Linked DNA regions of Homo sapiens. The protein of the gene in region 1 purifies or fractionates together with the protein of each later gene. This does not show direct contact. Each region holds a gene or a part of one and is shown on either strand. Other genes may lie near its edges. The genes, in order: DNASE2B, FSTL1, TCF25, TOR3A, HEXA, GALNT7 and TMEM132A.

What was found.
Region 2: the proteins of DNASE2B (region 1) and FSTL1 purify together in Homo sapiens (affinity purification with mass spectrometry; 3 studies listed by BioGRID and IntAct, with this or other methods). This does not show direct contact.
Region 3: the proteins of DNASE2B (region 1) and TCF25 purify together in Homo sapiens (co-immunoprecipitation; one large-scale study listed by IntAct). This does not show direct contact.
Region 4: the proteins of DNASE2B (region 1) and TOR3A purify together in Homo sapiens (affinity purification with mass spectrometry; 3 studies listed by BioGRID and IntAct, with this or other methods). This does not show direct contact.
Region 5: the proteins of DNASE2B (region 1) and HEXA purify together in Homo sapiens (co-immunoprecipitation; one large-scale study listed by IntAct). This does not show direct contact.
Region 6: the proteins of DNASE2B (region 1) and GALNT7 purify together in Homo sapiens (affinity purification with mass spectrometry; 2 studies listed by BioGRID and IntAct, with this or other methods). This does not show direct contact.
Region 7: the proteins of DNASE2B (region 1) and TMEM132A purify together in Homo sapiens (affinity purification with mass spectrometry; 3 studies listed by BioGRID and IntAct, with this or other methods). This does not show direct contact.

Annotation. Positions count from the first base shown.
Region 1 is NC_000001.11:84,401,484-84,404,983, reverse strand, and holds part of DNASE2B (deoxyribonuclease-2-beta isoform 1 precursor), read right to left. Parts: intron 3,085-3,500; exon of another isoform or gene 3,084-3,084; coding exon 2,906-3,083; intron 1-2,905. UniProt on the Homo sapiens protein: Hydrolyzes DNA under acidic conditions. Does not require divalent cations for activity. Participates in the degradation of nuclear DNA during lens cell differentiation.
Region 2 is NC_000003.12:120,395,493-120,398,992, forward strand, and holds part of FSTL1 (follistatin-related protein 1 precursor), read right to left. Parts: intron 1,505-3,500; coding exon 1,460-1,504; 3' UTR 1-1,459.
Region 3 is NC_000016.10:89,894,092-89,897,591, reverse strand, and holds part of TCF25 (ribosome quality control complex subunit TCF25), read right to left. Parts: intron 2,555-3,500; coding exon 2,455-2,554; intron 1,603-2,454; coding exon 1,509-1,602; intron 1-1,508. UniProt on the Homo sapiens protein: Component of the ribosome quality control complex (RQC), a ribosome-associated complex that mediates ubiquitination and extraction of incompletely synthesized nascent chains for proteasomal degradation.
Region 4 is NC_000001.11:179,085,070-179,088,569, reverse strand, and holds part of TOR3A (torsin-3A precursor), read right to left. Parts: intron 2,943-3,500; coding exon 2,677-2,942; intron 660-2,676; coding exon 481-659; intron 1-480.
Region 5 is NC_000015.10:72,345,015-72,348,514, forward strand, and holds part of HEXA (beta-hexosaminidase subunit alpha isoform 2 preproprotein), read right to left. Parts: intron 3,121-3,500; coding exon 3,034-3,120; intron 2,745-3,033; coding exon 2,672-2,744; intron 1,697-2,671; coding exon 1,513-1,696; intron 1,312-1,512; coding exon 1,221-1,311; intron 537-1,220; coding exon 432-536; exon of another isoform or gene 215-431; intron 1-214. UniProt on the Homo sapiens protein: Hydrolyzes the non-reducing end N-acetyl-D-hexosamine and/or sulfated N-acetyl-D-hexosamine of glycoconjugates, such as the oligosaccharide moieties from proteins and neutral glycolipids, or from certain mucopolysaccharides.
Region 6 is NC_000004.12:173,167,508-173,171,610, reverse strand, and holds the start of GALNT7 (N-acetylgalactosaminyltransferase 7), read right to left. Parts: upstream 2,801-4,103; 5' UTR 2,776-2,800; coding exon 2,650-2,775; exon of another isoform or gene 1,959-2,649; intron 1-1,958. UniProt on the Homo sapiens protein: Glycopeptide transferase involved in O-linked oligosaccharide biosynthesis, which catalyzes the transfer of an N-acetyl-D-galactosamine residue to an already glycosylated peptide.
Region 7 is NC_000011.10:60,930,960-60,934,459, reverse strand, and holds part of TMEM132A (transmembrane protein 132A isoform b precursor), read right to left. Parts: intron 2,775-3,500; coding exon of another isoform or gene 2,772-2,774; coding exon 2,576-2,771; intron 2,477-2,575; coding exon 2,333-2,476; intron 919-2,332; coding exon 716-918; intron 1-715. UniProt on the Homo sapiens protein: May play a role in embryonic and postnatal development of the brain. Increased resistance to cell death induced by serum starvation in cultured cells. Regulates cAMP-induced GFAP gene expression via STAT3 phosphorylation.

The DNA.
Region 1 (3,500 bases):
TCTGGAAAAAAGTGCCACAAAGGACACTTATTGGTAAGAAAGAGAAGCAAGCATCAGGATTTAAGGCAGGAAGGGACAGACTAACTGTACTGTTTTGTGCAAATGCAGTTGGGTTGATAATCAGGACTACACCTATCTATAAAGCTGCTAACTCTTGAGCCTTGAAGGGAAAAGATACATACCAGCTGCCAGTTGTACAATAAGAAGGCCTGGGCAACAAAACCCTTTTTCTAAATTGGTTCCAGTGATGCTTTGTCTCTAAAGTTAGAAGGTACCTTGCCAGTAAGGAACTGCCTTTTAAAGTTCTTTTGGTATTGGATAGTGCCACCGGGCACTAAAAGTCCCATGAGTTCAACACCAAAGGTGTCAAAGTTGTCCACCTGCCCCCAAACATAATGTCTCTGATTCAGCCTCTAAATCAGGTTCATAAGAACCTTTAAGACTCATTACATATGATGCTCTCTGGAAAGGATTGTCAGTGCTATGGAACACATGATAGAACACATGAAAGGATTACAGCGTTGAAGATGCCATTTCTGTTATAGGAAAAGCCATGAAAGCCATCAAGCCCAAAACAATACATTCCTGCTGGAAAAATCTGTGTTCAGATGTTGAGCATGACTTCACAGGATTTATGACAGAGTCAATCAAGAAAGTCATGAAAGAGATTGTGGATATGGCAAGAAAGGTTGGGGGTGATGGATTTCAAGATATGATTCCTGGAGAAATTCAAAAGCTAATAGACACCACACTAGAGAAATTAACAGAACATAACTCAATGGAACCAGAGCCAGATGATGAGCAAGAAGACATAGAAGAGGTGGTGCAAGAACACAGATCAATATTAGACGCAGTCTGATCATTCAAGGCTGCTTTTAGGCTGGGTGCAGTGTCTCATGTGTATAATCCCAGCACTTCAGAGGCCAATATGGGTGGATTGCTTGAGTCCAGGAGTTTGAGACTAGCCTGGGTAACATCATGAAACCCTATCTTTACCCACCCCCTCCGCCAAAAAAAAAAAAAAAAAAAATTAGCCAGGCATGGTGGTGCATGCCTGTAGTCCCAGCTACTCCAGAGGCTGAGGTGGGAGGGTCACCTGGGCCTGGGAGGTCGAGGCAACAGATAGCTCTTATGGTGCCACTGCACTGCAGCCTGGGTGTCGAATGAGATCCTGTCTCAAAAGAAAAAAATATAAAGATTGCTTTTAACTTCTTTTACAACATGAACCCTTCTGTGATACGGGCACTGAAACTAAAGCAAATGGTGAAAAAATGATTACTACTGTATAGAAACATTTTTGGAGAAATGAAAAAGCAAATAGATAGAATTCATTATGTATTTTCATGTGAAAGTTACACTGAGTATGCCTGCCTCTCTTGCTTCCCCTTCCACCTTCCCCACCTCTCCCATCTCTGCCACCCCCGAGATAGCAAGACCAGCCCTTCCCCTTCTTCCTTCTGCTCAGCTGACTCAACAGGAAGATGACAAGGATGAAGACACTTATGATGATCCATTTCCACTTAATGAAGAGTGAATATATTCTCTCTTCCTTAATGATTCTCTTAATAACATTTTCCTTTCTCTAGCTTACTTTATTGTAAGAATATAGTATATAAGATATATAACATAAAAATTACATGTTATTCGACTATTGATGTTATCAGTAAGGCATCCAGTCAAACTGATGTTATCAGTAAGGCATCCAATAGGCTGTTAGTAGATAAATTTTTAGGAAGTCAAAAGTTGTACATAAATTTTTGACGGCATGAGGGCCGGCACCCCTACCCCAGCATGGTTCAAGGGTCAGCTGTCGTCTGTTTATTCAAAGCAGGTTTGTTGAGACAAATAATTTTGAAAAGCATCTAGAAAAGTGCTTGGCACATCACATGTTCTCAAATAGCCTACAGATAAGCTTTAACTTTGTAGCTTGGCTCTGAAGGCTAGTCTTAATGGCAGGTAAATAACATGAATATTACCACACACCATGACAGTTCCGTGTGTATTTTGAGTAAATACTCAGATACACATGTGCAGTGCCAGAGGCTAAAACAGGATTGTTGTGGGCATTAAATTACTTGACATATGTAAAGGCCCAGCATACAGTCCAGCATATTATAGGAGCAGAGTCATGTTATATATTTACTTGTCTATAAGTTATTGTTAGGAAATGCATACATGAGTATAATTGGATGTTAATCATGGCTTGATTTTACTTGCCACTCCTGGTTGGAAAGCAGTATCTTGAAACTAAGCAACAGATGATGCCTAGAATATTGGGAGCATGCCCATAATAAGCCAGCAGGCCTACTTACCTGTGTCTCTTTGGCTGATTAGCTCATTGCCTGATAAAGTCCAGATATAGCAGGGATAATCTCCATCCAGACAAGTTAGTTCTAGGGCCTTGAACTAGAGTCCTAGTTTTCAACATATCATTTTGAAAACAATTAATGAAAAGGAAGATCAAGTAGAACCCTTTACTGAGCTCACCACCACTGATCAACACCATGATATAAACAATCCATAACTCATAGCATGTTAATCACAGTTCTGTATTGCCCTGTAACAGCAGAGGCTCCTCTCCCTATTTCTATTAGATGAATAAGCAAACTGACAGACATTTTGGCAGCCAGAAGACTTCAATATACAATTAATTCACACCTTGCCTAGTGACACCACTGGACATGGTGCCAAGTAAATTTGGCATTGCTGTAGAGTATGATGACATGTTTCCTCAGGTCTTAGTCAGATTGACTCAGATAGTTGTCTTGAGCTGGTCCTGAGCTAGCTCACTTCAAGGTGCTAGGATTGGGGGTTGGGTGGGTGAACAGAAAACTCTGGTGAAGGCTTTGGATTCAGTTTTATGCATTTTATATTATTCAAGTGAACAATTAACTATATAACATACCTTAGAGGCATATGCTTCATATAGCTGTTGTAATGTCCTTCCCAAAACACTCTTGGTGTCATTCATTAGTTGCTCACTCTTCCTCCAGCTTCTAGTTGTAGAGTCTAGGTACAGGTACTCTAACCCAGTCTCTCCACTTTCCTTGTTTTGTCTTTTAGGTAACTTATAAAAAGTAAACCTAACAGACAAAATGATTATGAATTACTAACATTTATTGACTGTTTTCCTGTGGCAGTAACTGTATTACACACTTTAATATATCTCTCATTTCTGTTTCATGGAAGGCCTCTAAGGAAAGGGATTTGCTCAAGCTCTTTGCCTCTTTCTTCACTCTTATCTTTGCTCCTCCCCAGAGAAGAAAATAAAAATCTGATTGGATATGTTCTAAGACCTTGGTTATACTGGTGGGTGGAGTCCCTGAAGTGGAAGTCCATATACATTGAGAGTGGCTCTTTCTGTTGCTTCCATGATCCATGTGGCTACAGTGGAGAGAAGGCCAAGGCCCAGACCATGCAGTTGGCTGACTGGATATGAGATTTGGGTTTGGGCTTCAGGAGAGGTGGAAGGTACTTTGAGCCCCTGTCATAAGCTGCAT
Region 2 (3,500 bases), on another chromosome or scaffold:
TAAACATGAAATGCAAATATGAAGACAGAGTGGGGTGGTTCTCTTTCCCACTCTCTTCCTGCTTTACCCATGAGGACTCCATATCATAGCACGACCTGTAGGGTCATCAGGCTGAGATCAAATCTGGTCATCTTGTTTTTGGCCATCTGACATTTCTTGTTCTAGTAACAAGATTTCATTTATTCTATAGAGAAGAAGGAAAAATCACAGGAACCTATCTCCCCTCTGGACCAATGATCAGAACCACAGAATTTATAACTTATCAAATCAAAAGGTTAGTGCATTCTTACCAGCTCACTGAGGAAACTGAGGTCCAGAAAAAAGAAGAGACAGGGCCAACTCACCCTCCTAGTTAGTCGAATGAGCATATTGGTAGGCTGGGATATCCTAAGCCCTGCTTGGCTGCCCTTGTCGCCATCCTTGGGAATACTGATTTGCCTCAACTTCTCAGAATAAATAAAAACAAATTAATGTTTGGATCTTGAAAGTTTTTTATGAAGATGCTTCTTCCCCTGGCTTCGGTCTAAGGCACCCTTGCTCCTCTGGCAGATAGTGGACTGCTGGAAGCTAGGGGGGCCAACTATGGGCTGCATCTAGTATGTGGCAGGGTGGGGGCATCTGGGTTATTTCAGCCCCTGCACCAGGAAGAACCCCAAACTCCTTCCACCTATGAAGTGGTGGGACTACTGAAAAATAATTACAAAAGCTTAATACCTAGTCAAGAAAATAAAATATTAAAAAACAATAATATAATGATAATAATTGAAGAATAAAGTCAACTTGCCAAAAAAAAGTGTTTTACAGAGAAATAGCACCTTTGGTAAAAAGTATTTTTAAAATTTGGTTAGGTCGCTAAGGGGCTCAAAGTATACAAGTATCTGCATCATTTGGGTGTACCCTCCCAGAAACTCCATCCAAGTCTGAGGGACACTGGGTTAACTAGCAGTATGGCTATGTATCTAGAGGCAGTTATTGGGACCAAGAGATGCGTGGATGCTGGAGGTCTGTCATGCTGACGGCAATGGAAAGAGGCTGGAAGCAGAGAGCGTTCCTCTCCGTGGAGCTTCCCAAACCTCTCCTCCGGGGACACCCTGCTAAGTTCTCTCTGGCATCGTGTGCACTCCCTGCAGCCTGCTGACAGATGCAGTAAACTCAAAAGAGGTTCAGATTTGGGTCTGTTCCTCTTTCAATCGTGATGCAGTTTCCTTACTAGCCTCCAGCCCCAGAGCACCATTTACAGTTTCTCTTAAAGCACTCCTAGAAATGAAGGCTGTGGCCCTTCCCTTCCTAGCCAGCCACCTTCATATCCTTTATTGCAAAACAAATAAACAAAATAAAACTCATTGCTATATAAGCAAATACTGGTGATTTGGCGACTGTAGCAGACACTTGTGTATACTGAACTCAGCGCTGAAGTGGAGAAGATGCTGGGATCCAGACACTGGTCTGTGCCTCCTCATTAGATCTCTTTGGTGCTCACTCTCTTGGTCTTTTCAGCTGTTTCCTTTGAGATGCAAGAGAAAATAGGCGTCATGGAAATATTAAACAACTGTTGGAATTTATCTGTTCCTCAAGACTATATAGCATTGGCATTTACAAGCTTATGCTGAATTTTAGTTGTTTACTTGTCGGGCTCCTCCACGGACAATGAACAATTTGAGAACAAGAACTATGGCCTATTCATGACATGGTCATGCAGGGGCTGTTTACTGAATTAAGCTGACTCCATTTGGACTCCTATGAAACAAGCAGATCAGACATTATGGTTCCCATTTTAAGGATGAAGAAAATGATGTTAAATGGAAATGCTACAAGATGTTCTTAATCCAACAAGTCCAAAGAAGTGTTAAGTACAACAGGTTCTGGAGGCAGACTGCCTGAGCTTCAACCATGGCTGTGCTACTTTTTGGGTGACCTTGGGCATATTATGAAATCTTCTGTGTCTCAATGTCTTCAACTGCAAAACCACAGTAATAAAGTACCATCTCTTACAACAGTGCCTGGCACAAAATGGCCAATAAGGACATAAGAAGATGCTCAACATCATTAATCACACGGGAAATGCAAATCAAAACCACTTGACACCCGCTAGGACAGCTAAAATAAAAAATAGCAATAACAAAACCGTTGGTGAGTATGTGAAGAAATTGGAACTCTATGGTGAAGATGTACAGTGGTGCAGTAGCTTTGGAAACCAGTTTGGCCATTTCTCCAAAGGTTAAACATGGAGTCACCGTATGACCCAGCAATTCCACTTCTAGGTAAATACCCAAGAGAGCTGACAACATGTGTCCACACAAAAACTTGTGCGAAAATGTTCCTAACAGCTTTATTTATCAGAGCCCCCAAATTGAAACAACCTAAATATCCATTAAATGATGAATGGATAACACAACATGTGGTATATTCGTATCATGGAATATTACTCAGCCATAAATAGGAAAGAAGTACTGATTCATGCTGTAAGAATGAACCTTGAAAACATTATGCTAAGTCAAAGACAGAAAAGGCTATACTGTTGTATGATACCACTGTAATATGTCCAGAACAGGCAAATTTATAGTTAGAAAGTAGATTAGTGGCTGCAAAGGGCTGGAGGAAGATGAGAATGGAGGGTTACTTCTAATGGGTATGGGATTTCTTTCTGGGATAATGAAAATGTTCTGGAATTAAGATAGTAGTGAGATGATTGACAATCTTAGGAATATACACTTTAAAGGGGTGAATTTTATGGTATATGAATCATATCTCAATTAAAGAAATAAATTTTTAAAACCTGACAACATTGCCTGATATCTAGCAGACACTGGTGTTCCATCCATCGCCCCTTTGTGTTTAATGTCTTGGTGTACACTGGCATGACTTCCTACCTACTGCCAGCACCTGCATCTCTGCCTGAGGCCTTTCTCTGGCTGCTGGAGCCCACTCTGTCCACACACACTGATAGGCCACAAATGCCAGGGAATTAACATTTCCCAGTAGCAGCCCTCAGCCAATGGCTAATGGGAGTTCTTGTAGAAACAGCCCAGCTTCATCCCCACTCAGGCACTGTTATTCCATTCCCAGAGATCCCCAATAGGATTAAGAGTCACTTGTTAACAGTGGTAACATGCCTGAATACACACTCTTCATTACTTCCTTCTCTTTCTGGACTCATTTCCCAAATCTCCCTCTGGTGTTTCCTGGCATTGCTTCCCAAATAAACTATGTGTACTTGCATCCTTGCCTCAGCATCTGCTCTGAGGGGACTCACATCAAACACAGAAACTTAAACATATTAGCTACTATAATTCACTCTGTACTGTCTGATAACTGTACTGTCTGATATTCTAGACGAAAGTAATTCCTATGAAGTTTTTTTCTCTTTCATGGGATTGAACTCATTTGGAGACTCAAGACTGGTGAAATTTGAAAAGCAAAAGACTAGAAGCTTTTGCTTCTGCTTAAACAACCGACATGAGATTTCTATACTATCAGTGACAATGATGACAAAATGCACA
Region 3 (3,500 bases), on another chromosome or scaffold:
AATTTCATTGGAAGAGACAAAACTAACATAAAGAAAACCAGTGGAGGAAATTCAGACCCAGCACACAGTGCAGACAATCTGTGCAGAACGGGTCAGCGGACCTTGGCTTGCCAGGAGGGCTGAGAGGGTAGGAGCGGATCCCACACTGCAGACAACCCAGGGCGGCCAGAGAAACAGGGCACTGCACACAGGAGAGGCAGGACAGCGGACAGAAGCTGGTCTGCTCCACAAAGGGCCCACAGGACAGGCTGCGGGAAGGCCTGGCGGAAGCCAGTCTAGGTCTGACCAGCGAGGCCTGATGCCAGAGGGATGGCTTTAGGGGCAGAAGTATCTGAAAGAAGAGAGACCTCCACATGCGGTCGCTCAGCACAGGGGAGCGAGGGTCAGGCTGACTCTGAGCTCCTCACTGATTTAAGGTCAAACCTGCAAAGCCTTCCAAAGCTTCTAAACTTGCCAGGGATGGGTTTTCTCAGCCAAACATAGAAGGAAATGCAATTGCAGAGCCCACTGTGGAGATCTGGTTTCTCAGGCTCACTTCTTCTTCTTCTTCTTTTTTTTTTTTTGAGAGACAAGGTCTCACTCTGCTGCCCAGGCTGGAGTGCACTGGTACCATCTCAGCTCACTGCAGCCTCGACCTCCTGGGCTCACTTGAGTGATACTCTCGCCTCAACCTCCCAAGTAGCTGGGACCACAGGCACGCGCCACCAGGCGCAGCTAGTTTTTAAAATGTTCTGTAGTGGCCGGGCGCGGTGGCTCACGCCTGTAATCCCAGCATTTTGGAAGGCCGAGGCGGGTGGATCGCAAGGTCAGGAGATGGAGACCATCCTGGCCAACACAGTGAAACCTCGTCTCTACTAGAAAATACAAAAAATTAGCCAGGCGTTGTGGCACGTGCCTGTAGGCCCAGCTACTCGGGAGCCTGAGGCAGGAGAATGGCTTGAACCCGGGAGGTGGAGCTTGCAGTGAGCCGAGATCGCGCCCCTGCACTCCGGCCTGGGTGACAGAGTGAGACTCCGTCTCAAAAAAAAAAAAAAAAAAAAAATGCTGTTTTGAGACTGCATGTTGCCACGGTGCTCAGACTGGTCTTGACACCTGGGCTCAAGCAACCCTCCCACCTCGGCCTCCCAAAGTGCTGGGATTACAGGCGTGAACCACTGTGCCCAGCCAGGCTCACTTCTAACACAAACATTTATTTTTATTTTTATTTTTTTAAGAGATGGGGGTCTCACTATGGTGCCCAGGCTGGACTTGAACTCCTGGGCTCAGCAGACCTCCCACTCTGACCTCCACAGTAGCATCAGGCATGTCCACAGACAAAGGTAAACCTGGGCTGAGACAATCCCATCCCTCTATCCTTAAGCCCAGAGAGAGGAAGGTGGGTCACTCTGGACCTGTGGGCCCTGGTCCACCCTGGAGGGCAGCCATGAGGTGCCCACTGCACCTCCCCCAGCCTCACTCGCAGGAGAAGGGAAGGGGAGCTGCGTCACCTCCAGGGCAGCTGCACTCACCTGTTCTCGGGTCTGCGGTAATCCAGCCGGCAGGCCCCACTGGTGAGACTGAACAGGGGGTGGAACGCACATTCCATGCTGTACAGCGCTCTCTCTGTGGGCACAGGGACGCCAGGGGAGGGTGTCATGGCCACACACAGCAACCACGGCCCCTCCTCTGATAATGGACAACAAGGAAAGGTCTGGACGGAAGGTCACGAAACTAGAGTCCTGGACACTGAGAGGGCAGACATGCCCCTGGGCACCCTGGATGCCACGCTGCATTTATTTCAACCACAGAACTTGTGAGCTTGACATGGTAACACTTTCAACACCATGAGGCACAACTGCTGCCACGTCCTGACAGAACCAGGCGTCCATGTGTGCAGCACAGATGTGTCCACCTAAGACTGCGTGTGCATGCTGACGTAAGCACTATTATTTACAACAGCCCACACGGCCGTCAACTAATGATGGATACACAACATGTGGTCCGTCCACACAGTGGAGTATTACTAAGCCATAAAAACGAACGACGTTCTGATCGACGCTACAGTGAGGATGAACCTTGAAAACTTCATTGTAAATAAAAGCCAGAGGGCGGGGCGTGGTGGCTCATGCCTGTAATCCCAGCACTTTGGGAGGCTGAGGTGGGTGGATCACAAGGTCAGGAGATCGAGACCATCCTGGCCAACACGGTGAAACCCCATCTCTACTAAAAATACAAAAAATTAGCCAGGTCTGGTGGCGGGCGCCTGTAGTCCCAGCTACTCGGGAGGCTGTGGCATATATTAAACACCAACAAACAAAAACTTTAAATGGGTAAGTTTTGTGCTACGTAGGTTGTATCTCAATAAAGCTGTCATGGATATCCTGGCAACCCCTGTCATCTTACACCATCGCATCTGTCTTGATAGCTTGAGGTGCTCCCACAGCTGAGGGGAATGGGGTGGGGGCTCTGCCTTACCTACGAGGTCTCGAGCCATCTCCTGATCCTCTTGAAAGCGGCAGGCATCGCTGAGCTGCAGGAGTGAGTCAACGTGGTAAGGGCTCGTCTGGAGCAGAACCTACCAGAAGGGAGGACAGCCCTGGAGGAAAGGCACTCAGCAAGGCCCCAGCTCCCAGGCATGCCTTTTTTTCAGACATTTAAAACCAGCGGAGGCTGGGCGCAGTGGCTCACGCCTGTAATCCCACCACTTTGGGAGGCTGAGGCAGGAGGATCACTTGATATCAGGAGTTCAAGACCAGCCTGGCCAACGTGGCAAAACCTGGTCTCTAATAAAAATACAAAAATTAGCCGGGTGTGGTGGCGTGTGCCTGTAATTCCAGTTACTCGGAAGGCTGAGGCAGGCGAATCGCTTGAACCCGGGCCGAGACTGCGCCAATGCACTCTAGCTTAGGCGACAGAGTGAGATTCCGACTCCAAAAACAAAAACAAAAACGGGGGAATTACCGGGTCGACACTCACAACGTCCCCCCAACTCAAAATAGGCTAGTTATTATTGCTAAGCTGAACCAATTATATGACTTAAAGCAAGAACTCAGAACCTGACATGCCCAGGCCAGGGGCCACCTAACTCCCCACTAAGCCCCAAGAAAGAGGAATGGAAAGCAGCAGCCTGCTTTTCCCACAGGGAGATGACGGGGAGCTCTGCGGAGGCTGTCCGGGGTTGCAAGGGGAGCTGTCCGGCGGCTGCGTGAGGGCCGCCCGGGGGCTGTCTGGGGCTGCGCGGGGGCCGTCCGGGGCTGCAAGGGGAGCTGTCCAGGGGCTGCATGAGGGCTGTCCAGGGTTGCACCGGGGCTGTACGGGGACTGTCCAGGTCCGGGGCTGTCTGGGGCTGCGCGGGGGCCGTCCGGGGCCGTGTGGGGGCCGTCCGGGGGCTGCACGGGGGCCGGGAATCTGAGCTGCTCGCCTGCACTGAGCCGCAGGAGGCAAGGGCAGCAGTGAGAAGCCCCAGAGTCCTGGGCCTGCATCACACGGCACTACTGCGACGGTCCCCAGGAACGGCTGAG
Region 4 (3,500 bases), about 95 Mb from region 1:
GAAATGGCCGTGTTGGACTTGATGGGAGACTATGCCGTTCTCTAACCAGGCTTGCCTTGGGAATTTGTTTCAAAAAATCTGTCACCCAGATTGGAGTGCAGTGGCCCGATCTCAGCTCACTGCAACCCCCACCTCCTGGGTTCAAGCGATTCTCCCACCTCAGCCTCCCGAGTAGCTGGGACTACAGGCACATGTCACCACGCCCAGCTAATTTTTATATTTTTTGTAGAGATGGGGTTTCACTATGTTGCCCAGGCTGGTCTTGAACTCCTGGACTCAAGGGACCCGGCCGCCTTGGCCTCCCAAAGTGCTGGGATTACAGGCGTGAGCTACCACAGCTGGCTGCTGCTTTCTGTACCAGAGTTTGTGCTGTTTTTTCTTGAGGAAAGGTTCTGAACCTGGGGGCGTGTGGAAGCCTCCACTGCCAGCTAGTATCTTCCCCTCCCCCAGCCCTCCTGACTATTGTTCCCCAGAACCCACCTGAGAAACAGAAAGATAGTCCATGGAGACTCAGCCCTGTGGCCCTCAGGGGCCCGGCGTTCTAAGTGTGGCCCAAGGACCTCCAGCAGCCCTGGGTGCAGCTTCTCCGCTTCATCGAAGATGAACAGGGTCTGGTGGCAGAGCTGCTGCGTCTCCCGGATCTGGCTCATCAGCTGCTCCTGCACGGGATATAGGGAGCAGCTGGGGAAGTGGTGACTCCTTCCACCTCCGGCCTTGAGGGCGTGGTTTCCCCTGGGCATGTGCAATGGACCCCCTGGGGCTGGGTTCCCCACCCCCCGCCCCCCGCCAGAACCTATCAAATCCAAGCTCTTGGGGAGGGCCTAGGACATTTGCATCTGACCAGCTCCCAGGTGATTCTCAAGCACCCTGAGGGTTGAAAGCTAAACAAGGTGAAGCCAGCTTGGGGACTAGGAGACAGCCTAGAAAGGAGTGGGGAGAAGCCCTTCTGCCCTTGAGAAGGGGCCCCTGCTCCAGCCCTGCTCTCTCCTCTCCAGGACTACATCCCATCCAGGAGCTAACAATGTCCACACACCCGCAAACTTTCATTACTTCTACAACAAAAACATCCAGGCGCAACTTCCCTGTTTAAGCTCAGGGTCTATTCCCAGGGGGTGGATAGGAGTTGAGCTTTCATACAGGGGTGATGGGCAAAGAGAGGCTCATGTGCCCAGAGGCAGCCACAGTCCCCTGCCCTGAACTCCCGGGTGCAGAGCGCCCACTGGCACCCTGGCTGGGCCGAGATCTCAGGGGAGCAAGCCTGCTGAAGGACTGACTGGGCCTAACCAACATCCAACTTGGCTCCTGCAAGCTGTGGAGGGTTCCTTGCCCCAGGCAAGACAGTAAACCCTCAAGTGAAAAGATGGTTCTTTGCAATGTTCATCGAAATGGGCAGGGAATATATTATTCAGGGCCAGCTCCCACTCCAGAGCCCACACTCCCTGTCTACTGGGTGCACCTTTGTGGGGGAAAGTGTGAGGTGCAGGGCTATGCACATGCCAGTTTTCACAGCAGGGAAGCTGGGGCTGCAGCAGTCTTGCCACAGTCTAAGCCAGACAGTTCTGCCCGGAAAGGCCCAGCTCAGCCTGCCCCTGCCCTCCAAAGCCATATGGAAACTGCCAGGAGACGCGGGCAGCCTCTGTCCTCAGACGCTGACATAATCTTCCCAGGTGAACACATTCCAAATATTAAAACAAAGCCAAAGACAGGTGCAGTCAATTCTGTCAGGCTCTTCTGGTATGTTTTCAATACTACATGGCTGAATTAGTAGAAGAAACCCAAAATGGCAGAACAGCCAAGGAAATTTCTGTCCATCCACTTGCTGGTATATAATAAGCTGATACGGGAAGACATGAAAAAATCAGGTAAGATAGGATAGGCCTGTTTTCTTTTTTTTTTTTTTTTTTGAGATGGAGTCTTGCTCTGTTGCCCAGGCTGGAGTGCAGCGGCACGATCTCGGCTCACTGCAAGCTCCGCCTCCCGGGTTCACGCCATTCTCCGGCCTCAGCCTCCCGAGTAGCTGAGACTACAGGTGCCCGCCACCACGCCCAGCTAAGTTTTTGTATTTTTAGTAGAGACGGGGTTTCACCGTGTTAGCCAGGATGGTCTCGATCTCCTGACCTCGTGATCCACCCACCTAGGCTTCCCAAAGTGCTGGGATTACAGGCGTGAGCCACCATGTCCGGCCAATAGGCCTGTTTAAATTTTAAAAAGGCAGGATATACAACTTTCTGTCCAACGTAGTTACAATGACAAAGAGCCTGGGGAAAGGTTCCGCACCAAAGGCAGCACATAAAATGCTACCTCTCCTTAGCTGACAAGGGTGTGTCCGTGTGGAGAGTCTGACAGTTTTTGCTTTTCTCTGTTCTACACTGCAGTCTGTGACATTTCACTACTTCTACAACAAAAATCAACATGCAGCGTCCCTGCTTAAGCGCAGTGTCCAGCCTCTCGAGTGTGGCTGTTTGGGGACAGAGCAGGGGGTGGTGTTTGGAACGCCAGTCTCTTCCACATGCTAAGGGCCTCTGTGAGGAGTGGACGGAGTGGCTCTGTCACAGGTTCTGCCACCTGTCCCCACCTCCCCAGGCTTCTCCAGAGCCCATTTCCTTGCAAGGAAGGGCTGGCAGAAGGGTCTCCCTCCCAGCACAGAGGCCTCACCCCAGCCCTGGTCGGCCTCACCTTGTACAGGTCCACATATTTGGGGTGAGGAAAGTGGAACGTGGCGATGAACATCCTGACACAGTCACTCATCAGCCCGTCCCGATACAGGTTCTCCACCAGCATCCGTGCCACGAAGTTCTTGCCTGTGCCAGACCAGCCGTGGAACGACAGAGCAAGGGCCTTTTCTGGCTGGGGCGTCTCTAAGTAGCCCCTCACTGTTCTTAGGACCAGCTGCTGGACCAAATGCTGGCCATGCAGCCGCACATTCAGGTCCCACTCTAAGCCTAAGGACAGGAAAGAGGTAGTCACAGCAAAAGGCACACACAGGCCCATCCACCACAACAGCCAACAGCCAAGAAACCAAGCAACTCTGAATCTCTCTCGGGTGGAATCAGTTACTCCTCCTGTTTGGCCTTAGAATAAGAAGCCAGAGGGCAGACTTTGTAGCAGAAGGGATTCAAGGACTACTTTCTTTTTTTTTTTTTTTTTGAGATGGAGTCTTGCTCTGTCACCAGGCTGGAGTGCAGTGGCGCAATCTCAGCTCACTGCAACCTCCGCCTCCCTGGTTCAAGCGATTCTCCTGCCTCAGCCTCCCGAGTGGCTGGGATTACAGGTGCCCACCACCATACCCAGCTAATTTTTGTATTTTTAGTAGAGACGGGTTTCACCAGGTTGGCTAGGCTGGTCTTGAACTCCTGACCTCGAGATCCGCCCACCTCGGCCTCCCAAAGTGCTGGGATTACAGGCGTGAGCCATTGCGCCCAGCCTCAAGGACTACTTTTTGAAGAGTTTGGGAAATCAAGATGGGACTCAGGGAGAGTGGAATCACCCTTCCTAAAGAT
Region 5 (3,500 bases), on another chromosome or scaffold:
CAAACTTAGCACAGTGTTTGCCACAAAATACAGTTGTCCCTCAGTATCCACAGGGGATTTGTTTCAGGACCCCCGTGGATACCAAAATCCAAGGATGCTCAAGTCCCTTATATAAAAATGACATAGTATTTGCATATAACCAATGTACAACTTCCCATATACTTGAAATGATCTTAGATTACTTATACCTAATACAATATAAATGCTATGTAAATAGTTGTTATACAGTATTTTTTATTTGTACCATTTTTTGTTGTATTTTTTTTTTCCTGAATACTTTTTATCGCAGTTGGTTGAATCCGTGGATGAGGGCTGACTATAAGCCTCTGTAAGTGTTAGCTATTGTTAATTATTGTCTTCCTCTCTCTAAGGGGTTCCCCAGCCCTGGATCTGGCCTGCTCCGCCTTGCGAAGGCCCCACAGCTTGCTTACCTCAGCAATTCACAGCGGAAGTGTGACAAACGTTCATAGGCAAATGTCAGGTCAGATGTCAACTTGTTGCTCCACAGCCTTTCGGCAACAGCCCCTGCTCTGGGCCTGGAGGAAAAGGGGCATGTGCCAGATTGGGCCCTGTATTCCCTGCAAAGGTGCTGGACATCCACAGGCTGCTACCTCTTGTCTAGGCACCCTGGACTCACTCAGGCCAAAGGAAGTGATCAATACCTTGTTATGAGCCACAGCCAGGTTGGATGGCTCCCAGAGAGTTCTACGGCTCAGCTCCACCTTCATTAAAATGTGGGTAGCAATCCCACTCTCTTCCTCTCTCAAAGATATGGGAATAAGAATAAACCTTAAAGCCATCATTAACCACAATGACAGTGGCAGCAGCAGAGGTCCTTAAAATGTAAACTTTGCACACCCAACCATACTTGGTAAGGCTGCAGTGAAAACAGCAGAGGGAAGCCTTATTACAGGAATCATGGATGCTTGTGCTGGGTCTTGAGCAACTCACCTATGTTCTCCAGGCCTCATTATCTCTCTGGGAAGTAAGGTTAACAATCCCTATCCCACATACCAAAGGGCAGCTGGAGGGATATAGACGGAAGTCATGTGGAGAGTGAATATTGCACACAAATCTTCAGAAGGCTCGTTGCACGGCCTGCTCTCTCTCAGGCCTGAAAGAAGGGTACTAGTCCAGAGGTGGCTAGATGGGATTGGGTCTCTAAGGGAGAACTCCTGCTCTCAGGCCCAACCCTCCACCTCCCCCCCGAAAACCCTTACCAGAGCCTGGGGACCAGGTTTGTGTTGTCCACATATTCTCCCCACATACAAGCCTCTCCACCAATCACCAGAGCCTTCTGCTCAGGGGTACCTGAGGGAAAACAAGCAACAACAGTCTGGTGATGGTGGGGTAACTCCAGGGTCCCTCTCAACCACCTTCCCAATGTGGCCCTCACCCCAGCTAAGTTGTTTCATTTACTAACTGGAAATGTCTGGCCCAGACCTTCCTGCCTCCCATCCTGTGCCCCAACCCAGCCTCCTTTGGTTAGCAAGGAGAGCTCTCTGCTTTCACCTTCAAATGCCAGGGGTTCCACTATGTAGAAATCCTTCCAGTCAGGGCCATAGGATATACGGTTCAGGTACCAGGGGGCAGAGAGAAGGGCCCGGAAGCCGGCCTTGGTGACCAGTTCCAGCTCCTTCATATAGTTCACTGGAATATCCTCTCGCCACACCTGTATGATTGTGTCTGGCTGAATCTGTTATAAAAGGTCAAATGGCAGTAAGGACACAAAGCTGAGGAGATTCCTGGGCCTTATTCATACACAGGCAACATGGGACAACAGGTATGTGCTCCCTCTGTTCCCCAGCAGCAAAGTATGTCTCTGTGACTCCTGACCATTGAGCTCACACCTCAGGACAGAGGCCAAGGAATCCAGGGCCCTAAGAGGCCTCCCTGCAGCTCTCCTCCCCGTCCCTCTGCAGCCTCCCTGTCCACACAGAGCTAGTAATACCAGCTGTGAGCTGAGGGAGGCAAGCAGTGGGACCCAGGAGCTGCCATGTCCAAAAGTCTCCAGATGTTTCTGGGGACGGGACAAGGTTCCTGAAGAGTCCTTGCATGTGACAGGAGACTGGGATCTTACTGATCAACAATAAAGGAGAAGGTAACCTTGGTCCCACAGACCCAGAAGACCCTCATCTATGATTTAGGAAGAAAAATCCAGCCTATCCAAGTAACCTAACAGCAGAAATAGTTCTTAATTAAGTTTGTAGTGAGGGAAGATAGAAACTCTGACACATAAACCCAGGGCTCATACCACAGCGGCCTTTGGTTTTTTTGAGGCAGGGTCTCACTCTGTTGCCCAGGGTTGAGTGCAGAGGCACATCTTGGCTCACAGCAACCTCTGCCTCCTGGGCTCAAGCAGTACCCCAACCTCAGCCTCCTGATTTTTGTATTTTTTGTAGAGATGAGGGTTTTGCTATGTTGGCCAGGCTGGTCTTGAACTCCTAGGCTCAAGCAATCCCCCTGCCTTGGCCTACCAAAGTGCTTGGATTACAGGCGTGAGCCACTGCACCCAGCACTCTGTGGCCTTTCTAGAGAGAAAAGGAGAGTGCTCCGACCATTAAAGCCCAATCCAAACCAGGAGGATCAGTCTCTGTAGAGGCAGGGAGGAGCTGGGGAGACCAGAGGGAGGCACTGCTGGTGGCTTCTTCTCTTCTCTGCCCCGGCTCACCTTTACTTTATTATCAAACACCTCCTGCCACACCACATAGCCCTTGCCATAAGAAGAGACGATGTCCAGCAGCCTGGAGAGGAGAGGAGTGTCTAGTAAGTGTCTGCTTAGCTCAGATGGGTTCTAGACTGTTTGTGCCAGTGCTCTAGGGGTTGAGCCTGGCCAGGGGCCTATTCCTCATTAAGCAGTGTCTTTCCCCTGGGCTGAAAACCAACCACTCCAAATCTGAAAGGATGGGACAAAGGACAAGGGAACCCTGCAGGGACCAGACAGTGGCCAAGCAGGGCCTGACTCGGTATGGAAAGGGAGGACCCCACAGGAGGACCCCCAAGGGACCCCACCCACCCTCCTTCCTTCCTCACGTCTGGATGTAGAAGGACTCCAGCTGCTTGAAGTCCTCACCGAAGCCTTTCTTCCTCATAAAGTCCTGGATCTCTGGGTTGGACTTCCTGAATCCCAAGAGAAAATGAAGATTAATCTTTCAACATCCTGAAAGCCTAATGCCTGGGGATTAGTCACCTGGCCCCCTATAACTTCCTCTTTTCACCTGAAAAATCAAATAAGCAAGGATCTCAGAAGCCCTACATGTGGAAAGTGTGGCCAAGCAAAGTTATGTGAAGCAGGTGGGCTGTTGACACAGGCTGAGAAAGGCTGAGTCTGGACCTGAAGAGTTTTAAGTTCAAACTCCCAAAGAGAAAACATATTAATCCTCTCTGGACTGCAACATGAGAATCCAAGGTCTTAACTTGAAGCTCCAGCACACTGGATTTCGGCTTTCCTATCTGCTCTTCCAGTTGGATGACAAGCCTTGCTGTCTAACACCTGCTGC
Region 6 (4,103 bases), on another chromosome or scaffold:
GTCTTGACTCCACAGGTGGACAGACCTAAAACAAGGAAATAGTGCAGATGAGAAAGGACCATCCCAAGTTGTCAAGGCTGTAACAGAATTTAGTGTATGACATATTCATAGTTCAAGACAAAAAGTGGCACAGGGTGAATGGAGCCACAGGTACAAGCTTGCTGGAGTAGAGGCAGAACCCATACCTGGTAAACTGGATCGTTCAGGCTATTTAAAGGGATCCAAAAAAGTCCATGTGTAGATCAGCATTAAAGAGAAGCAGAGATCTCACCATGGGTGGAATATATGCAATAGTCATCGAAGTAAAAGAACCACAAGGGGGAGGAGAAACTCAGGAGTCAGAATCCTCCCTACAGGATTTGTCCTTCTAGCACTGTACCTTAAAAGCTCCTAGGTTAGTCTTTATTAAAGGAAGGCAATAATCCCTTATTTATGCTCTTATTATTTATAAGCTACACTTTAAATTGCTTGTATTACTATTTACCTGGGAAGCCAATAAAAGGGTCTTTCTTGCTCTTCTGATACCTAAGCATTCCTCTTAATGTTAATTATGTTAAGTCTTTAAAATCTACCTTTTGTTTTTGACAAATGACAGAAATTACACTGGATCCACTGAGAAACTTTATCAAGTACACTGAAACAAACAAAAAATCAAGATATCATCACCTTCTTTATCATCACCATATAGTACTGAAATGGGCATTATGGCCCATCCTTTGTTTGCACTAATAAAATATTCCACGAGTTGGCAAGTGATGCTGATGTTCCGCCACCTCTTTAAAAGATCATCAGAAGGGCGGGACATTCTGAACCTAGCTAGTTTTGTCAGTTTTTCGTCAGTTTCTCTACCAGAAAATAGGGGGTTAAACATTTCTAGCTACATGTAAAAAGCCATTTGATGACTTAAAACAAATATCCTCAATTGCAATATTCAGTTATCCTTTGTCAATAAGTCATATTGAGAGCAAAATTATAAAAAGATCACCATCACTCCATGAGCTGAGAAGCTTAAAACCGCAAATGTACTGAAAAGGAAAACTGATACTTTTTATTACCATCAATTTAGATGACTTAGATGGGAATCTATCCCAGATATTACAAAGGGATTCCACTGCTGTAGAGACTTCAAATACTAAAACTTCCAGATTACATCTAATCTCATGATATAGGCGAAGAGCTGATAATGGGATCTCCTCCTAGGATTCTTACTCTTGAAAGGACGCCACAAGCCTTTTTGCCCAACTTCTTGATGCTAACTTTCCAGAAGGAAAGTTAAATAAACATGACATAGAAGCGATGCTCATCACACTTGCAAAAAGCACTTTACAACAGAGAGAGCGACTCGACTCCTCCTGCAGCCCCGCCGCCTCGGCGGTCGTGAGCCCCTCATACCCTCTCCTACCCCCACTGGCAGCCGGCCCAGTTGGCTGTCCCAGCGGGGAGGAGGAAGCAGGTGGTGCAACGGTTCATCCGGGGGGAAGCAGGTCAGGGTCGGGGGCGAGGCCGGTGCGCGCCGCCCGCTGCCGGGTCAGGGAAGCCGCAGTGCCCGCGGTCCCTTCCCCGCGCGGCGCGGCTCCGGGTAACTAATGTTCCGAGGCGCCTGACTAAACCCTCCAAATCCAAGGAATGTCAGCGCTAACACTCGCGCCCTGGGCGGCAGACAAATGCGTCCCAGCGGAGCCGCCGCGAGCTCCGCGCCGCCGCTCCCCTCGGCGTCGGCCTGAGCTAGCCGGCAGCCGGCGCGGGGCGGCCGGGCGCCGACACAAGTTAGTTTTCCGGCCCAAGCAGCCCTGCCGCAGCCAAGGAAGAGGAACTGCTCCTCTTCCCCCGGATAGCGCCCGAGCACTGCCACAGCAGGGGCTTCCCCAGGCGCTGAGGGCTGGGGGCGGCGGGCAGGCGGGGCGGGGACGCCCCTCCGCCATCTCCGGCCAACCGCCCCTCCCTCGCCCAGGGACGCGAGGGGGACCGGCGGTCCGGGCGAGGCCTCGGCCGCGCATCGCACCCCGGCTCCCCGCCGCCGGAGTTGAGGGGGAGGCGCGCTCTCCGTAAGAGCCGGAGGCGGGGCGCCATCGCCCTCCCACTCCCCGGCGGGCGGGCCGGGGGAGCCCGGGGCTGCGAACACCCCCAGACGGGCGGCTGCGGGAGGGGAGGCTGGACCAAGGGGCCTGGTCCACCGGACCAGCGGTGGCGGCATCGGCATCTCGCCTCCTTCAGGCCTGCACGCGCCACAGGCCGCAGCCTGGACCAACCCCGCGTCCCCGGGCCGTGAGCGCTGCGGTCCCGGCCCCCCAGAGCGGGACGCCGGGCGGCCGCAGCCCCCCGGACCCGGCTCTCCGCCCGCTCCGCCCGCAGTCCCGGCGCGGAGAGCGGCCGCCCGAGCCGCTGCCGCGGCAGCGCGGGTGTCGGCGACGGAGCCCGGGGCGGGGAAGAGCGGAGGAAGGGGCGGCGAGGGGGCGGGCCGGCGGCGGCCAGGGAGGTCGGAGTGCGCGGGGCTCGGCACCCCCTCGGCCCGCGCTGCGCCAGCACCACCTGCGGAGCTGCGGTGCCCACGCCGTGCCGCGACCCCGCCGCCCCTGCTCCCTCCACACGCGGGCAAACAAAACAAGTTGCCGGTCGCTGCCGCCGGAGGGGGCCGGGCGGGTCACTCACCCTCATCCTGCTCAGCGGGCTTGGGTCGTCCGGCCGCGGGGTCAGGGAAGACCAGAGGACCACTAGCCCCAGGAAGCTTCCCACCACCAGCAAACTGCGTAAGATGAACCCAATCTTCAGCCTCATCTTCCTCCGGCGGCGAGAGACTCACAGCCCGGCGCAGCCGCCGCCACCGCTCTCCCCTCCCTCCTTCCCCCTCCTCCGGCTCTCCTCCCCCTCTTTCCCCCACCCCTACCGCTACGGCTGCCGCCCTCTCCGCTGCCTGCCCTTTCCAGCTCCAGATCCGGAACTCCCCTCGGCTACACCTTTCCCCGGGCTCTTCCCTCCGCTCCTCCCCGTGGCCCCCTCCCCTCTGGCGGCCACCGCAGAGCTCCGACTGACCCGTGTGCCTCGCTCTGCCAGGCTGCCTTCCTCTCTACCTGCCCCCTTCCAGATCCGCAGTCCCCTGCTCTCCACGCGAGCCCCCTTCACAGTCCCTGCTACCTTGTAACTAACTTGCACTTTTCCCGAGTCCGGTTCTTAGCCTTTGCCCTGCAGCTCAGCTCCTTAAAGCTTTCAGATCCCCAAACTTTTATTGTAATTATGGACAATAACTCCGTCCTTAACGCCTGTGCCCTCCGGGATCCCGTGGCCCGCCGCCCCCTCCGTTGGACCTGGAGTCGCTCTCGTCTGCACCTCTCCCTTAGACCCACTTCCCTGAGCCCCTTGTCGAGAGGCTTTCAGGAAGCCAACCAGGAAGTGGGACTACCGCTGCTGCTGCAGCAGCTCCACGTGGCTGATTTATAGCTGAAGGGTTTTTTTTTTTCCTTCTTATTGATTGTTCTTGCTTTTTCACACGGCTCCTTAAGGTGGTGAATTTGTAACCGAAAGGCCCAGGTGAGATGTGCAAATATCACTGGATTGGAGGAGCTCACTTGGAAAGCCAGTATTCCTCCTGAGCTAATGAAAAGAAAGGCTGTCGTCTTATGCCAAAAGCAATACCAACCTTGTTCACGGGCTGGTAAGTTTCAAATCCAAGGACCACGGATTTCAACTCCACCCTCATTGCGTCCCTCAGATCTGATATTTGCCACTTGATTTCTGCTTTTCAAACGCCTTTTCTGCCTGTGTTACCTAAATTACACAGTAAAGGATATTGGCAAGTGTTTAGCCAAATGCCCCACCCTGAGGAAATAATTTTTCTGCCCATATCTCCCAATAAAGATGTCTATGCCTTTATAGCAGAATGTATGTAATTACATTATCAGTGTACTATATCCTAAACTGCTAATTTAAATTTAAGTCGAACAAAACGTTTTAAGATTTTATCCTAAGTTTTTTGGGGTTTTTTTTCTTTTCTTTTTTTTTTTTTTTTTTTTTTTTTTTTTTTTTTTTTTTTGAGACGGAGTCTCTCACTCTGTCACCCAGGCTGGAGTAGAGTGCAGTGGTGCGATCTTGGCTCACCTCAACCTCCA
Region 7 (3,500 bases), on another chromosome or scaffold:
GTCAGCGCTGAGCGGCCCCAGCCTGCCCAGGGCCCAGCTGCTGGAGACCCGCAGCTCGTCCCCGGCGGCTCCTAATCACCAGCAGCTCCTGTTTCTCAAACGCAGACATCCGCCCCTCTTGGGGTCAGGCCCTTCCACCTGCAGGCGAGCCGCCCCAGCCCACTCCCGACTGGCGCTGTGCCTCGATCACCGCTCTTGCTCCCAAGTGGACCGCAGGGGAGACGCTCTCTTACGGGGACCCTGGGGGCGCTCACTCTCTGAAGGGCCTGGAAGCTAGATTCCAGAGGCGTGGGCCACCTCTCCCTGGGTTTTGGGGAGCCCCCTCCGAGGGTGTTCATTTCCTGAGCTCTGTGTCATCTTAGGCTCTGAGGGTACGACCAGCATAGACAGACCGCAGCTTCAAGGGGCTGACATTCTCGGGGGAGGAGCGTGGAAAGGATGGACAGGCAACATTAACCAGTACTGACGTAGATTAGGAAGTGGAGGGTGCTACGGGAGAAGTGAGGCAGGGAAGGAGGAGAGGGATGCGGAAGTCAGCAATTTCACAGAAAGCGATCATTGGCTGGGCGGCCCAGGGTGGAGGTGGGCAGAAGGAACTGCAAGCAACAGGGCAGTTTTTCTGACCCCGACTTGGGCCCATGGCTGTGTCCCCTGCGCCCTCTCCGTCCCAGTGTGACTCGCCAAGGCCTGCCAGCTTCCTCAGGCCTCCACTCACCCTTCAGCAGGGCCAGGTACCCTCCAGCCGCGGACCTGCTCGAGGGTGGTGTCGGTGAGCTCGATACGCAGCGGTAGCAGGGGGGCCCACACGGTCAGCCGCAGCGAGGCGCGGAGCCGGCGCCACCAGAAGTCCACTCGCACCCCCCGGGCGCCCCGGCTCTCCTTGCCAGCCACGAACACGGCATCACAGGCCTCAGACACCTATGGAAGGGCAGAGGGCAGGTGGGCGGGCTAAGCCACTAAAGACAGGTGTGAGGCTGGGCCGGGTGGGTGGCTCATGCCTGTAGTCCCAGCACTCTGAGAGGCCGAGGTGGGTGGATCGCTTGAGTCCAGGAGTTTGAGACCAGCCTGGGCAACATGGCAAAACTCCCTCTCTACAAAAAATACAATAAATCAGCCGGGTGTGGTGGCACATGCCTGTAGTCCTAGCTACTGGGGAGGCTGAGGTGGGAGGATCCCTTGAGCCTGGGTAGCTGAGACTGCAGTGAGCCGGACTGTACCATTGCACTCCAGCCTGGGGACAGAGTGAGACTCTGTTTCAAAATAAATAGATTAAAAAAAAAAAAAAGGCATGGGCCAGAAGAGAGCAGCCCTGACCTCAGGCCGTAGGACGGGCTCCCACTGAGTTCAGCTCTGTGTGTCACTGGAATGCATGTTGCAGCAGGATTGTTGGTTAAGCCCCTGTTCTTTGTTTAAGATTTTACTGTAGGGGCCATTCCTTGAGGTTCCCTGGGGCTCAGTCAGGGGAACTGGCCATTGCATACCAGTCTTCCTCCTGGCAGAGCAGGGGTGTGAACCCAAAACTTTGGCTCCTTATTCATGCTGGCCTTTGACATTGCTCTTGGAGCCACCTGGCAACCAGCTACAGCCAGGTAGGCAGAGGTGGGACAAAGCAGATCTCCCACCAAGGCCCTCCAGCAGGAACCACACACATTTGAGCAAAGGACCACAAGTGGGGAAAGGCACCTTCCCCCTTCAGGTGGCTGGGATTTGCATACATGCAGACTCCATGCTTCCCCTCTTAGAACTTCAAGATAGAGGAAGTTGCTCTACCACCCTCCCTTTTATTTCACTTCACAATCACCGGTAATAATAATAATAATAATTTTTACCATTGTATAATTATTACATCATATTATAACAGCAATAACTGCCATTGTTTCAGCCCCTGCTATCTGCTAAATACTGTCTTAAAGTGCTTTTAATTCTTACAACAACCCGAAGATATGTTCTCATTTTAAAGTTTAGGTAACGAGGCTCAGAGAGGTTAAGAGACCAGCCCATGATCACAAAGCTGGTTGACAACAAAGATGTGTTTCAAACTAAAACTTTCTGATCCCAGAGTATGTGCTCTCGACTCTCTCAGGCCAGCGCACTTGCCAGTGCAATAATGAGCGTGAAAGTGTCTAAGGTCGGGGGGCTGTTAGGGTTACTTGACTCGGGAGAGAGGTGGCTGGAACAAAAGAAGTTGAAGCTGTGGTTCCTCCCATGAGGTTTCTCGTCTCAAGAAGAAGCTGTTCTCTTGGGGACCCACATGAGGAAGGAGGAAAGGTGTGTGTGCGTAACTGTGCCCACACAAATGCAGACTCACATGAGCTGGGCACCTGCCACTCACCTGCAGGACCTGTGTGTTGGCAGACTCGCAGCCGACATGCTCTGTCACCTCCACCAAGGCCCCCCCGCCGTCCACAGTGACAAGGCGCACGGGGACATGCTGGGGCACTCCAGTCAGTGGTGCTGTATTCACCAGCTCCTCAGCCTGGGGGTGGAGGAGGGGCTCAGCCCCAGGCCCCTCAGCTCATGGGGCTCCTGGGACTTGGCCTCCAGCCTTCCCAGGCAGAGATGGAGGTCTCCTTACCTTGGCCAGTGGGATAAGGGCTCTGATGTCCCGCTCAGACACCAGGATTTCCCACACCATTTTGTCCTTCTCTGCTTCAGGGGCCTGGCCTGGGTACTCCAGCTGCCACGTGACGGGGCGAGTGACCGCTACGCCCCCACCAGTGCTATTCTCCACCACAAAGTCCACCCATAGGAACTCAGACAGTTCAAGGGGACTGCTGGCCAAAGGAGACAGAGAAGCCAAATGCTTGCTAGCTGCCAGGCATGGCCTCAGCACTTCCTGCATTCATGATTATCCCCATTTTACACAGGAGGAAACTGAGGCACAGAGGTTACATAGCTCACTTAAGACCACACAGCAAAAAGTAGCGGGGCTGGGATCTAAACCCAAGCATCCTCGCTCTAGACCCCAAACTCTGACCCACTCTTGGCCTCTCTAAGATCCATGAAGCCATTTAACCACCTCCCACCTGGCAAGGTGGCTCACTCCCCTGCCTGCCCGGGCCCGCTTCCCCCAGACTTCCGCTTTCCACAGCCACTGAGGTGGCATGCGGGAGATTCACTTCCAGGTCCCAGGACCAGACACTTGACCCTCTGAATGATAAGCTTCCTTTGATCAAACAAAAACCTATGTGCTGGGAACCGTCCTGGGTGCCTGATATGTAGCACTGTATTTTATTTTCAAAAATGCTAAGGGATGCATTATTATTCCTATTTCACAAGTGAAGAAACTGAGGCTTGGGTAGGGGAATGTTAACTGGCTTGCCCAAGGTTTTGCCCATCCCAAAAGCATCAGAACCAGAATTCGAACTGGGGCTACTGAGTCCATGGCCTTGACCCAGGCTCAGGGCATGAATAAGAAGAGTTCACAACCGCAGAACTGCAGCTGGGCTTTTTGGGGGAATGTGAACGGCCCAGAGAAAGGATCATTTGGTGGAAGCAGG